2 separate regions of the Homo sapiens genome follow, and region 2 is linked to region 1. A link means that fine-mapping ties the variant in region 1 to the expression of a gene that starts in the linked region. Tissue or cell type: prefrontal cortex. Region 1 holds a variant in brackets; the other region holds the start of a gene. All regions are shown on one strand. Distances are between the middles of the regions.

Region 1 (7,263 bases):
AGGCTGGAGTGCAGTGGTGTGATCTCTGCTCACTGCAATCTCAATCTCCACCTCCTGGGTTCAAGCAATTCTCCTGCCTCAGCCTCCCGAGTAGCTGGGATTACAGGCACATACCACCACGCCCGGCTAATTTTTGTATTTTTAGTAGAGGTAGGCTTTCATCATGTTGGCCAGGCTGGTCTTGAACTCCTGACCTCAGGTGATCTACCTGCCTCGGCCTCCCAAAGTGCTGGGATTACAGGCGTGAGCCACCGCACCCAGCCAGCCCTGCATTATTTTTTATAACACAAAAAACAATAGCGTCCTTTTTGAAGGGACTAAAGAGCACTCATGAGTAAAGTCAGAACACCCACTTGTCTTCTCACTGGTCACGTTCTAGGTCTGGCCAAGCTGGGGAGCAGGAGCCCAGGGCCGAAGAACAGGGACTTTTTCTTTTCATTAAGCTAAATTCTGCATGTAAGTACCTGTGAGTGTAGTTTCCCAGTGTTTTCTAATCAGCTCTTCCAAAAGTTCTACCATATTTGTCCAGACGTGATCAAACACTTCTGCTGCCACGGCATCTTTGACACAGTCACGCGGGGAAACAGGAGGAAGTCCGAGTTTGCGCCATTTCCTACCGGGCTGAGCTGGTTTTTGTTCAAGACATTCATCATCACTAAGAATAAAAACCCACTCCAATTACTAAAAGATCAATGCTTAGAGTTAAAATAATTCTATCTACACACATTCACGTATGTACATGTATACATATATTAATAAACATTCTTTGTTAAACAGCATCGTTCTTTTTTAACATATATAATTTTTTTCCATTACACATGAATAAAAACAAGAAACCAACTCCTGGTTTCATTGATCTTTCTTTTTTTTTCTAGTCTCTTCATTTATTTCGGCTCTGAGCTTTGTTATTTCCTTCCTTCTACTAAGTTTGGGCTTAGTTTGTTCTTTTTCTCATTCCTTCAAGTATAAAGTTAGGTTGTTTATTTCAGATATGTCTTTTTTCTCAATGTAGGCATTTATTGCCATAGGCTTCCCTTTTAGAGCTGCTTCTACTGTACCCCATAAGTTTGGTTTTAATATGTTGTGTTTCCATTTTAATTTGTCTCATTATATTTTTTGATTTCCCTTTAGGTTTCTTCTTTGACCTACTGCCTGGTTGTTGAGGAGCAGGTTGTTTAGTTTACACATATTTGTGAGTTTTCTAGTTTTCTTCCTGTTATTGACTTTCAGTTTTGTACCACTGAGATCAGAAAAGATGCTTGATTTCAGTCTTCTCAAATGTGTTAAGACTTGTTTTATCAGTGTTACTTTTTAATGTGCCAATTTTCAATCACGGGGCAAAGTTTTATCATGTAATAGTTGTAGTTTTTGATTAAGAACAAAATACAAGGCTGGGCACAGTGGCTCACGCCTGTAATCCCAGCACTTTGGGAGGCCGAGGCAGAAGGATCACGAGGTCAGGAGATCGACACCATCCTGGCTAACACGGTGAAACCCCGTCTCTACTAAAAAAAAATTCAAAAAATTATCCGGGCGTGGTGGTGGGCGCCTGCAGTTCCAGCTACTCGGGAGGCTGAGGGAGGAGAATGGCGTGAACCCGGGAGGCGGAGTTTGCAGTCAGCCGAGCTCGCACGGCTGCACTCTAGCCTGGGCGACAGAGCGAGACTCCGTCTCAAAAAAAAAAAAAGAACAAAATACGAATTTAGTACAGAGGCAGGAACTCCCCTTAGGCCCTTTTGGGCAGCCAGGGCTGGGGAACCTGGAGCCCCCAGGACCAGGGCTGCGAGGAGCCTTGTCTGCTTTTACAAGGGCACTGAACACCCTCTTCGCTGCTCCCGCACGTGCACCGCTGGCTAGGAATCCAAAAGCTCTGGGGAGTACATTACTCTCAAAAGAACAGAAATCTTTTGGGTGAGTAAAAAATACACAAAACACTTAATGAGCATACGATAACAATAAATGTCAAATAAATTAATATTATTTTATGAGGTCAATGTCAAATAAGATTCTATTTACTCCTCTTTTCTGTCAAAAGCGAAATACTCCTCAATCTTTCCATCCACATGGTAAACCTCTTCTTCCAGGGATGAACGTGCCGTTAGGTCAGCAACCCCTGTGTCATCAGGGCCTGGCAGGGCAGAGGCTGAGAGTGCTGCTGGGACTATTTGAGAGCCAGAAATGCACAACCTATGGGAAAAAAACAGATTCTACATGGGAGTTTATAGAACACCAAGAACGCAATGCTTAAACGATCATGGCGGATCTTTCAATTATCTGTAAAGTACAGAATCCCCCCCTCCCAAAACGGTTGAATATTACATTGGACAAAACTCACGTCCTTAAAAACACTTTAATACAGGCATCATTAAACATTTTAAGGGCTTCTTAAAAGCCTAAATTATTCTATGAGTTTGTACCCTCTTTGGTTGCAGTGAAAGGACTGCATTGTGTCACGGCACACCAAATATGTGTGAATGGCATAGAGTCATCAAAATCTGCTAGTGAACAGAAACGACAGGACAGAGCTTCATTTCTCCTGCTGCCACCGCCTGGAGGCTTATAATCCATCACAGTGAGGCGGTTTCCATCCTGCACCCAGTCCACCTTTCACAGCGCCTTTGGAACAAACATGGAAGGTAACTACCATGTGTGTGCATGTGTGTTCCATATATATATTACACATCTCTCTATATACACACATATACACCTATCATCAATTCAGAATCAAAAGCTTCTTATAAAAATTGTTCTCTGTACCTGCCCTTCATCAGAATCTAAATTTCCAAAATGGGTGGAGCCAAGGCTTATAGATGAGATAAACATGAAAAAGTATAACTAAAATACAGCTAACAATACTTTTTGAGAGTCACTTATCTGAACATACTCTCTGATGTTGCTGCTGTGTCCGCAGGCACTGAGCGGGGGTCTGTGGACTGCGGAGGCAGGAGTGCTGCCCTGGAAATGCTGGACGCCTTTGTCAGTGGGCAGGATCAGCTGTCTTCCTAATACTCTGCGAGGTCAAAGAGAAGCTACTGACATTTTTGATCAGACAAAGGGAAAATGTTTGGAGATTTTAAAAGTAGGAGACAATGATTTTGAAGGCATGTGTATGATAAGATGTGTATGGGAACGTGGGAAGCATCACGCATCACAGAAGTGTGACTTTGAGAGTTTAGGCCAGACTGTTCTTCCACTGACTCAGTCTCAGGCAAGGTTCTCAGGCTAATTTCATTTGTTTGTCTTTCATTTGCAAAACAGGATAATAATGGTTACCTTGCAGGGCTGATGAATGGCTTAGAGATCATATATGACAGACTCAGGTGTCTAAGGCAACACTGGGCACAAAGAAGCCCTCCATACATATTAACTAATACACAGTTAAACACAAACATAACAAGAATACAAATATATAAATATGCACACTTGGCTTATGTACCTGACAATCTTTTCCCACCTTCCCTCCATTTCTATCAATGATGTAAGACAGCAGTGACAAGAATAAGTGTGAGCTCCCGAATTTCTGGTGAGTGATCATCCCCAGAAAAGTGAGTATCCACAACTAGTATCTAGTGGACATATCATACTCTTTAGGGCAGGTGGCTTATTAAGGGTTGAAAAGAAAAAAAAAAACAACCCTAGTTGGTCAAGATTTCTGTAAAAGTTACCTAGTGAATGTAACCAGGAAATCCAGCCACATTTACATGAGTGTTCTGATTCATTCTCCCCAGACAGAATCCA[C/G]AGGAACTCAGGTAACTTTGATAAACTGTCCCCCAGTACGTTGGCTGAGTGACTGAAAGATAAGCTTGCCTTTGGCCGGGCGCGGTGGCTCATGCCTGTAATCCCAGCACTTTGGGAGGCTGAGGCGGGCGGATCACGAGTTCAGGAGATCAAGACCATCCTGGCTAACACGGTGAAACCCCGTCTCTACTAAAAATAAAAAAAATTAGCCGGGCGTGGTGGCAGGTGCCTGTAGTCCCAGCTACTCGGGAGGCTGAGGCAGGAGGATGGCGTGAACCAAGGAGGCTGAGATTGCAGTGAGCTGAGATCGCGCCACTGCACTCCAGCCTGGGCGACAGAGCAAGACTCCATCTCAAAAAAAAAAAAAAAAAAAAAAAGCAAAAAGAAAAGAAAAGCTTGCCTTCATACCCAATCCATATTCTCCATCTTTGATATGAAAAGTAACACATGCTCCTCCCTACATAAGGAATGGGTGAGATGGGAAGACCCATCTATCCAGCCGTTCAGCAAATCATCTCTGCCCACCCTCGCTGTGTTCTGTGATGAAGACAGACATGTGCTGCTCACACACAGTGAATGTGAAGGTAAGAGGTGGCCTCCACCATTCTTGCATTCGTATATGTGTCATGCCCTTCTCAGGATGGCCTGAATTTGCTTCTCACAAATTAAAAGGCGCTTGAGTACTGGAATGTCTCAGTATTTCCTCAGACGCCGTAAGAGGAAAGTGATCTCTCAGTGAAGGACTGCGCTCTGCATCCATATTCTGACTGGGCAGGCACTTTCACACCAAATGTACTGAATGTATCGAGGCAGGTCAGGGGTGGGTGCTTGGAAAACCCACCCCAGAGAACTTCCACCACCAAGGTCCCACCTCAAATGGAGGGATCTTCTTGTCCACTCCCCGCATTCGGCCAGCAGACTCTGGGTCTGAGGGTTCACTTTCCCTTCAAATAACATTTCCTCCACCTCCCAGAGTAACCGCTGCACTGACTGTGAACTGGCTTCGTCAAATTCCTAAACAGAAATGCACACTTGGTTACAACACTGCAAGTTACAGAACTGCGGGCTTCTGGATCAACGCTACTTATACATTTACTGTCACCCACTATGTAGGAGGGTGCATCACTTGGTAAAAAGATGGTGGCTTTGCAGTCAGACACACCTGTGCTCTAGCTGTTACCTTTCTGAGAAATGCCATCTCATTCTGAGCCTCGGATTCTTTTACTGTTAAATAGAGAAAACTTCTGCCACGGAAGTTATGAGACTCAAGAATTTGCATAGATAGAGGTATAGATGGACGTGTTCATACTGCCACAGACATCAGCGTAGACACACAGACACGTCCACATCTGTATGTCTGCAAACACAGGCAGCTCCTCACAGAGCTGTGCCTGACACACCTAAGCACACCTGCAAAATACAAGATTTTTTTTTCTTCTGGTGATACCACAGAAAAGAAAATTACTTTTGTAGAAAAGGCCATTAATCTCCTTAAATCAATGAACTGGAAAAAAAAATCCTTAGTTATCCTAAGAAGTGTGGTTATTAGGGTGAGGCCTGAGTATTAATGGAAGTTATACGAATTTCCCTGGTAATTCCATTAAACGTTGTACTAAAAGAATCCTAGAATTTGGACAGAGTAAAGCAGTGGTGCTCAGCCTTCTACCAAGGAAGGCGGGCTTGAGGGATGGTGGTGAGTGGGCGTAAGGGAGAGGAAGGAGGCAGCTGCCCCTAAGTAAGGGAGCTGCGTGCGTGAAAGGTCCTCCTAGCAGTGCTGAGCTGAGTCCCTTTCAGACCCCCTCGGTGCACCTGCCCTGCCGGCTCCCCTGAGAATCACAGCTGCACAGCTGCGGACAGAAGCGGATTCCCATGTGCAGTGGGAGTGGGGAACCACTTTTAAAGAAAGCAAAGAGGCTGGGCGCAGTGGCTCATGCCATGGGAGGCCCAGGCAGGCGGATCACAACGTCAGGAGTTCGAAACCAGCCTGGCCAACATGGTGAAACACCGTCTCTACTAAAAATACAAAAATTAACTGGGCATGGCGGTGCACACTTGTAATCCCAGCTACTCGGGAGGCTGAGACAGGAGTATTGCTTGAACCTGGTAGGCGGAGGTTGCAGTGAGCCGACATGGCACCACTGCACCTCAGCTTGAGTGACAGAGCAAGACTCTGTCTTAAAAAAAAAAAAGAGAGAAAAGGCCGGACGCGGTGGCTCACGCCTGTAATCCCAGCACTTTGGGAGGCCGAGACGGGCGGATCACGAGGTCAGGAGATCGAGACCATCCTGGCTAACACGGTGAAACCCCGTCTCTATTAAAAATACAAAAAATTAGCCGGGCGTGGTGGTGGGCGCCTGTGGTCCCAGCTACTCGGGAGGCTGAGGCAGGAGAATGGCGTGAACCCGGGAGGCGGAGCTTGCAGTGAGCCGAGATCGCGCCCCTGCACTCCAGCCTGGGCGACAGAGCGAGACTCCGTCTCAAAAAAAAAAAAAAAAAAAAAAAAGAGACAGAGAGAGAGAGAAAGCAAGCAAGCAAAAAACAACAACAACAACAACAAAACACCCAGCATAAACGAGGTAAAACAGAACACCCAAGGTGCTGCAGCCAGGTGGGCCTTAAAAAGGAGGGCTGTGTCCTGGGATCCACGGAGACCCTTGGAGGGAGGGGGAGGGAGGAGACTGGAGCCAGTGAGCTCCTGAGCAAGCTGGAGCAGTGGAGGCAGAGCTCGCCCAGCCAGAATCCCAGGCTCACACAGACAAAAGCAGTTCAGAGGCAACAGCGCCCCCAGCGGTAGGGGGTGAAGGTGAAATATCCGACTGGGAATACTGGCGGGGAGTTCTCTAATCACAGTGGCTGCCACAGCTTTTACTTTTCCAGCATTTCTTTCTTATTCAAGTCCTGAATTTCCGGCCATGGATACCATCCAAGAAGTCACAAGGAGCACACACCCGGAGAGCCGGCTGCAGGGTGGAAACAAGAAAACTGCGGGCAGCTAAGACGGGGCCAGAAGGTCACGAGGGAGTTCTGTTTTCCTCCACGGTTCGTGATCTATTATTTTCACATGTAACATGTACATGCTTTTACATGTATGTACATGTATGTATGCAATAGGTCATGCTTTTATAATTGGTAAAAATAATTTTGAATATAAGGAAGCAACTCTTCACTATAAACTGTAATTACAAGATTATCCAAAATATTCTGAGACATACGTCATCTCTCCAGGAATAAACGGAGCCCCTCTCCGTGGATGAGCCGGTGGTAGAGCTCTGTGTGGCCGACCCAGACCAAGAGGTGTGGGCTCCCGTGGGTGTATGGCTTCCGCTGGAGGAAAAGGATGACAAGGATTTGCTGCAGGAATGAACATGAGCAAAGAAATCACATTTGCTGGAAGGGCTTGGATGGCTAAGTGGCTTCACTTTTCTGAGCCTGCTTCCTCTTTCTTTCATTAAATATATTTATTAATTTCACAGTATACTAATTTTGAAATATTTTTACAGTGTGATGTTTACACTAGGTTAAAAA
Region 2 (7,263 bases), 49 kb after region 1:
TCTGCTTCCTGCCTGTGTGTGCCTCTACCTGCTGCTGCAGACAGTAGGAACACACAAACTCAGGAGGATTCTGCAAAGCACCTAGCTGTGTATATTACTTCTCATGGCACTTACCTAAAATTCAATTTCATGGCCAGATGCAGTGGCTCATGCCTGTAATCCCAGCAATGCCCAGGTGGGAAGATTGCTTGAGGCCAGGAGTTCAAGACCAGCCTGGGCAACATAGGGAGACCCCGTCTCCACAGAAACATTTTTAAAATTGGCCAGGCATAGTAGCTCACACCTGTAGTCCCAGCTACTCGAGAGTCTGAGACGGGAGAATCAGATCGCTTGAGCCTGGGAGGTTGAGGCTGCAATGAACAGTGATCATACCACTGCACTCCAACCTGGGTGACAGAAGGAGACCTCATCTCAAAAAGTAATAATAATTTAAAAATTCAATTTCTTCACTGTCCATAAAATTGAATGCATTTGTTAATTCAGAATAATCTCTTATGTAAATAATGCCAAATGCAGTGTTATTCAAAAAGTATCTATTCCAAATATTTGCACAATATAAACATGAGCTAATATGTTCAAGAATTGAAACTAACACCAGTTTCACTGGCCATGCTGCATATTTCAGTGCCTATTTGTTAAAAGCACTAAGACTAGAGTTTAAGGTCAGTGTGTAGATCTGTTTGCTCATAAAACATTAATTGCATAAATGTTAAGGACCAGTTGCCAATAACAAAGATCTAATTCCTCAGGCATATGTATTCCAGTGAGTTTTCCAAAAGCAATTAACTGATAGGGAAAACTATCAGTTGATAAACATATGTCATAATATAGTATTTTTTAATGAGTGGGAACAACTTTTTGCTTAACTGCTTATTTTCTTTTTTGTTGTTGTTTTTTTGAGACGGAGTCTCTCTCTCTGTCGCCCAGGTTGGAGCGCAATGGTGCGATCTTGGCTCACTGCAAGCTCCGCCTCCCGGGTTCACGCCATCATCCTCTTGCCTCAGCCTTCCGAGTAGCTGGGACTACAGGCACGTACCACCACGCCCGGCTAATTTTTTGTATTTTTAGTAGAGACGGGGTTTCATCGTGTTAGCCAGGATGGTCTCGATCTCCTGACCTCATGATCCGCCCGCCTCGGCCTCCCAAAGTGCTGGGATTACAGGCGTGAGCCACCGTGCCCGGCCGCTTGTTTTCATATTGACATGAATATCATTCAATTTTGTGAAACTGTAATTATTTAAATTGTGAGTGAGTCAGGATCAGTATGAATGCAAAAATTACTCAGGATTTTTTGGAGGGAGTAGGGAATGGCCTCACTAGATTACAATGCAGAAACCTCAGTCTGTGAATTGGCTCATCTGTCTTTGACCATTTCACTATTTCTTTGCAGCATTCAGGATGAAAATTTACCCACTCAAGAATAGCTAACGATATGCTCCACTCTAAAAATTAAAATTCATCCTAGTTCTAAAACACATTTTAAAAGAGCAATGTTTTTATCACGACTCTTGGAAGTGAAAGGGGTGTTGTGTGGGTGTGTGTGTGTTGAGGGAATCGGCCTCCGATTCCCAGTGAAAATGTTCCCATGAAGTCAACGTTTCTGCAGTGACTCAGGGCACTGTGGAAAGCTCTCAGGAGCTCTAGGGTAATAATCAGACGTGTCCTGGCCATTACAACTCCATTTGTGTCAGATGATGTCATGCATATGTAAATTAACTAGATGTCACACAAAGGAGACCCATCCCACTTAGGATAAGACTAGGGACTGGTCCTTAGACATTAGGAAAGCACCAGGTCTCACCACTTCTTAAAACACTTGCTGCAGACGTGTGTATTCGGTTTCCCTGCACACCTGCTATATTCTGAGACAAAGAAAGGGACTTCAAAAAGTCCTTAAGAAAACCAAACAAACACTCTAAGTAGCAATGCTTCTGGTAGAAGAGAAACAAAATTCTGTCCCTTCCTTCAAGGCCCCTTAGGATTCACTCTGAGAAAGCTGGACAAAGCATGTCACAGCTTATGTCTGAAAGCCCGCAAAGCCAAGGAGTAAAAACCCAGGAAACGTGCAAGGAGGGTGCCCAGGGGGTTATGAAAGTTACTACAAATATTTCATTTCCTGAAGTGCACCTGCGAAGGTGAGTGCGGCAGGCGGAGGGGTCGGGGGTCCCGGCAAAAGGTACACGCGCCCGGACCACGCTGCTACTCACGCTTCGCCATCCCCGGAGTCGCCGTCCGAGGCCCCCTCCTCGCCGATGTCAGGCAGCGTAAGGAACAGGGTTCTGGGGCCAGCCCCGGGGGCCACGCAGGCGCCGAGCTCTCGCTCTCCGGGGCCAGGCTGGAGCGGGTTCCTGGGGAGCGCGGCCCAGACCCCGCCGGGGCCCGAGGGCGGCCGCGCTGGGACCACCAGGCGAGCAGGGGAGCAGCCCCCGCCGGAGGGAGTGGGGGGCTGGGGCGGGGCTTTACCCGCTCTAGGGCTACTGGGCCAAGAGAGCAGGGTCCCCACTGCTCCCGCGGCGCGGCTGGCGGCGGAGCCCCGGGAGTAGGGGGAGGAGAGCAGCGGGGCGGGCGACCGCCGCGAGGCGGAGGGGGAGTCCGGAGCCAGGGCGCGGAGGAGGGTCGGGGCGGTACCCAACGGGGTGCCCGCCCTGGAGCCCCCCGACCCTGCAGCGGCAGCACCTCCCGAGGGTCTGGAGGAGGGGCCTGCGGGGGGCGCCGTCGAGGTCTCGAAGAGTTTGGCCAAGAGAGACCCAAGGTCCAGCACAGCAGCCTTCATGCCTCGACAGTGGACACGCCGTCCTCGCCGCCGCCCGAGAGTTCAGACCGCGGAGATCCGGCCGAGGCGGCCCGGGCCGGGGCGAGGAGCCTGAGGTCCCCGCACCCGGAGCCCCGGAGGCCCCTGGCTCCCTCTCCTCCCCGAGGACGCTCAGCTCCGCGCCGCTGGGGTCGCCCTTCCCCGGCCCGGGTCCGTCCGCCGAGCGCCCCGGCTGCGGAGAGCAGCCCCGCCTCGTCCCAGCGCCGTGAGACCCCCGAGGGCCGAAGGGCCAGGAGCCCCGGGAAGCGCGGCCGCCGCCCGCCCCAGACGCCCGCCGCCCGCCGCCCGCCGCCCGCGGTTGCTACGTTCAACACACCCGGCCGCGCTCCAGGCTAATTGGGCCCCAGGTGCGGCTCGGGCTGTGCCCGCGGGGGACGTCCCACTCCCCGCCTGGTTCCGCCTTAAAGGAACACGCCCCCATTTCCCCTGCGCCCCGAGCCTCGCAGATCCCATCCGCCGAGCTCAGGGCCCAGGGCTGGGAAAGAGAATCCTGGCTCCAGAAGGTTCTGGAACTTACCCAGCCTGACAAGCTTGCACGTGCTGGGGTCAGGCCACCTCTCTGACGATAGGGAAGGTGGGTAGAAAGATGTATTTGGGCGAACGAGCTTGAAACAGCAGCATCCACTCCCCCACCCCAGGGTCCTACTCAAACCCTGTTACTAAGGGTGGGGTGGGAGCAACCGCGAGGTGCGCCACCCACTAACCTGCAAACAAGACCGGCTCTGAGAGCTGAAGTAGAAAGACCTACGCACACCTGTTTAAACACCTGTCGGAGTGAACCAAGAGACTGTGTAATTCAAATGTTTGAGAACTCAAATTATAATCGGAACGACTACAAATTCAAAGACAGATATGGAAGGCAACGTTTTCTATTCAGTGGAATAAATTGTATTTTGCTTAATCTGAAAAATATGTGTGAAAGGTAGAGCGTATAGGTGCGAGCATCTAAAGGGGTGTGGGGTCAGTGTTGAACAGAGTTAAAAAATAAGATACTGCAGCCAGGCTCGGTGGCTCATACCTGTAATCCCAGCACCGGGATTGGGAGGTGGGAGGATGGCTTGAGCCCAGGAGTTCCAGGCCAGCCTGGGCAACAACATAGGGAGACCCCATCTCTACAAATATTTAAAAAAAAAAAAAATGCCGGGCCTGGTGGCGCATGCCTGTAGTCCCAGGTACTCGGGAGGCTGAGGTGATCGCTTGGGCCTGGAGTGAGCCGTGATCGCACCACTGCATTCCAGCCTGGGCAGTAGAGTGAGACCCTGTGTCAAAAAAATAGTAATGAGATATTGATGGAGTTTGTCCATTAATATTCAGGAGAGGATCTCAGGAGATACATTTCCTGATGTGGGGTAGGGAAAAGAGATGAATTAAGTCTGGCAGTGAATAAACTGACATTCATGCTTATATACTTGAATCTTTTGTAAGTTATCAAACTGGAGTCTGAGCCACGGTAAACTTCCAGGTAATGCTAAGTTTTGCGTTATTTGGAGGCAGTTAACAAGTCTTCTGTCATGATCCCTTTTCTACATCTAACTGCCACCAACATGTACTGGGCACTTGTCTGCTTCAAGATTGCATTAAGCACAGACATGCAAAGAAAGAGCGGTTCTCTTCCCAGAGCATGGAATAATCTGCTTCACGTCATATGCTGAGTGTCCCGTGAGTGCCCTGGAAGACAAGCACAGGTGATGGCAGCCATCGTGGTCAACATTCGCTTGGGGACAGCAGAGCATTTGTGTGCCTAAGGGAAGTAAGAGACATGGGTGACTAGGGTGAGATTTTAAAGGCCCTTGGATGTTCGGAGAGGCGAGAGCACGCAGTCGTCAGCGTGTGAAGCACCAGCACACAGCGAAGAATCAAAATGAGAGAAAAAGGGAATTAAGAACAGACACCTCTGAGAGCAGCAATGGTAACAAGAGGGAGAGGGTTGGGGGCAAACCAGGGAAGCAGTGCCAACTCCGTCACAACGCAGAGACACCAGGAACAGGCTGCTGTTGAACCATGAACTTTTCTCGTGCTCCCTTGTTCCCCTTCTGCAGCACTCACCAGGTAGCCTCAGAAGTCTGGACGTTCCCTCCGAACACTGGACTGTTTTCATGTAGCACTCATTCAGGACTGCAAAGCAGTTTCCCACAGATTTTGTTCATCTTACAAGGATCTTATTCTGATTCATGGAGTAATTAAATCCTTAATATATCAGGTCACTTTCAATGCAAATAGAAGTTATTTCTAGAGTATGTGCTTTCAGTGAGTAAGGGGCTAGTCGCTCCATTGAATCTGAACATATGGAACTTGAAATAACAGCAAGGGAGGGCCATTGTGGAGCAAAGTTCGAGTCAGCTCACCTAGATCCTTGGGGGTAGCACTTGTTTGCTGCCAGAACTCAGGATTCCTGATATTTCAGACTCAGAAATCTGATGGGCCCAGCACCTTCACAGCTGACCAGTGTCTCTGTGTGGAGCCCCACTAATCTGACTCACAAAGCACTGATGCGGCCGGGTGCGGTGGCTCACGCCTGTAATCCCAGCACTTTGGGAGGCCGAGCGGGCGGAGGAGGTCAGGAGATCGAGACTATCCTGGCTAACACGGTGAAACCCTGTCTCTACTAAAAATACAAAAAATTAGCCGGGTGTGGTGGTGGGCGCCTGTAGTCCCAGCTACTCGGGAGGCTGAGGCAGGAGAATGGCGTGAACCTGGGAGGTGGAGCTTGCAGTGAGCCAAGATCTCGCCACTGCACTCCAGCCTGGGTGACAATGCGAGACTCCGTCTCAAAAAAAAAAAAAAAAAAAAAGCACTGATGCAGTGTTCCATCCTCTGCTCTTTCCCCATAAGAGGAATCCCTTTAGGACCAAATTAATTCCAATGGTTGTTAGGTGAGTGTGGAATCAAAGCAAAGGGAAGGAATCATATGGTTCACATACAGGGGGCATTAACCATTAGAGTCCAGCACCCTTCTCCTTCAGGAGCAACTGTTCCTGAACAGTGGTGCATTCATGCCGCTGTCTTGGGCTCTCTGGTTCTAGATCTTTCCATGTTTCCCTCAATAACCACTTCTCTTCTATGGACAAGCACTTTGGGAGGCTGAGGCAGGCAGATCACTTGAAGTCGGGAGGTCAAGACCCGCCTGACCAACATGGAGAAACCCCATCTCTACTACAAATACAAAAATTAGCTGGGTGTGGTGCCGGGTCCCTGTAATCCCAGCTACTTGGGAGGCTGAGGCAGGGGAATCGCTTGGACCCAGGAAGCGGATGTTGCGGTGAGTCAAGATCGTGCCATTGCACTCCAGCCTGGGCAAGAAGAGCGAAACTCCGTCTCAAATAATAATAATAATAATAATAATAATAATAATAATAATAATAATAAATAAAGCTAGAGAACAGCTGCATACCCTTCCAGATCCTGGCCTTGAAAGCATTCTGTCTCTAAGGTGTGTCTGCATGTGTCCCAGCTGTGGGCACATTTGAGTTGTGTGCCCCCAGAAGATGTGTTGAAGTCCCACCCCCAGTTCTTGTGAATGTGATCTTATTTGGAAATAGGATCTTCACAGATGTAATCAAGTTAAGCTGAGGTCAGTAGGATGGGTCCTTGTCCAGTACGATGCGTATACTCTTAAGAAGAGGGAGATGTGGGCACAGACACACAGGGGGAGCACCACAGGATGACAGAGGCAGAGGCTGGAGTGAAGCAGCTGCAAGCCGAAGGGTGCTCCAGGCTGATGGCCACTACCAGACGCTAAGAAGAGGCAGGGATGACTCCTCCCCTACAGGGCCCCACAAACACCTCAGTGAGGACTTCCCATTTCCAGAACTGTGAGAAAAAAAAAAATTCTGTTGTTTTAAGCCACCCAGCACTTTGTTATGGCAATCCTAGGAAAGATCCATGATTGGGGTATTAATTAATTTTGGGGTACTTCAAGATCATAGTATCTTGCTTGTACCTCTATGAAAGTCTTTAGTGGGTAAATTCACTCTAAAAAACTGGCTACAAATTGAAATGGTCATCGTAATTGTTTTAAATCTATAGGGAGAATGCAAGAATCATAAAAAGGAGATGGTGGTGGTGGGGAAGAAGTATCATCCTTGGTTACGGTAGTAGGTGTAGCATTCTGACCAGCCAGCCCCATGAAGAAGGCACACTGAAAGAATAGTGGGTCCTTTTCTTTGGAGGGCCTTCCTTTGAAAATGACCCATAATTGCAAACGTGATAAGCCATTCTTAGCAACTTGTCCAGTCCTTTGTACCCATTGTTCATCCATCAACAGCCTTTTGTAGATGCGGCCAGGCTTCTCTGTTAATTACCAGCAGCATGTCATTCTTAGAACATGGGCCTCAGGTGATGTGGTCTGGCTCAAGCAGGATCAGGCAATGAAAGTAAATACAGTAAATAGTTAATCTTTCTTTCTAATGATTTTATATAGACAATTAGAAATGTAGGGTAAGGCCAGGCGT

Evidence for each region. PIP is the estimated chance that this variant, and not a neighbour inherited with it, causes the effect.
Region 2: FAM149A starts here. The variant in region 1 is fine-mapped to the expression of FAM149A in prefrontal cortex (CommonMind, PIP 0.95).

The regions. Positions count from the first base shown.
Region 1 is chr4:186,149,392-186,156,654 of GRCh38, reverse strand. FAM149A (family with sequence similarity 149 member A) reads right to left here. Exons shown (of 14, transcript NM_001395294.1): 3 at 6,951-7,089; 4 at 4,610-4,752; 5 at 2,885-3,010; 6 at 2,017-2,187; 7 at 465-655. Among named protein-coding and RNA genes, the nearest start is that of FLJ38576, 38 kb to the left of the region's middle. RefSeq lists a silencer at 6,522-6,717 and an enhancer at 6,736-7,263. The variant C/G (reference allele first, on the strand shown) is at 3,739.
Region 2 is chr4:186,100,587-186,107,849 of GRCh38, reverse strand. FAM149A (family with sequence similarity 149 member A) reads right to left here and starts at 3,146. Exons shown (of 14, transcript NM_001395294.1): 1 at 2,208-3,146. The coding sequence starts at 2,773. LOC124900171 (a long non-coding RNA gene) reads right to left here and starts at 156. Exons shown (of 2, transcript XR_007058421.1): 1 at 115-156. RefSeq lists a silencer at 3,167-3,226.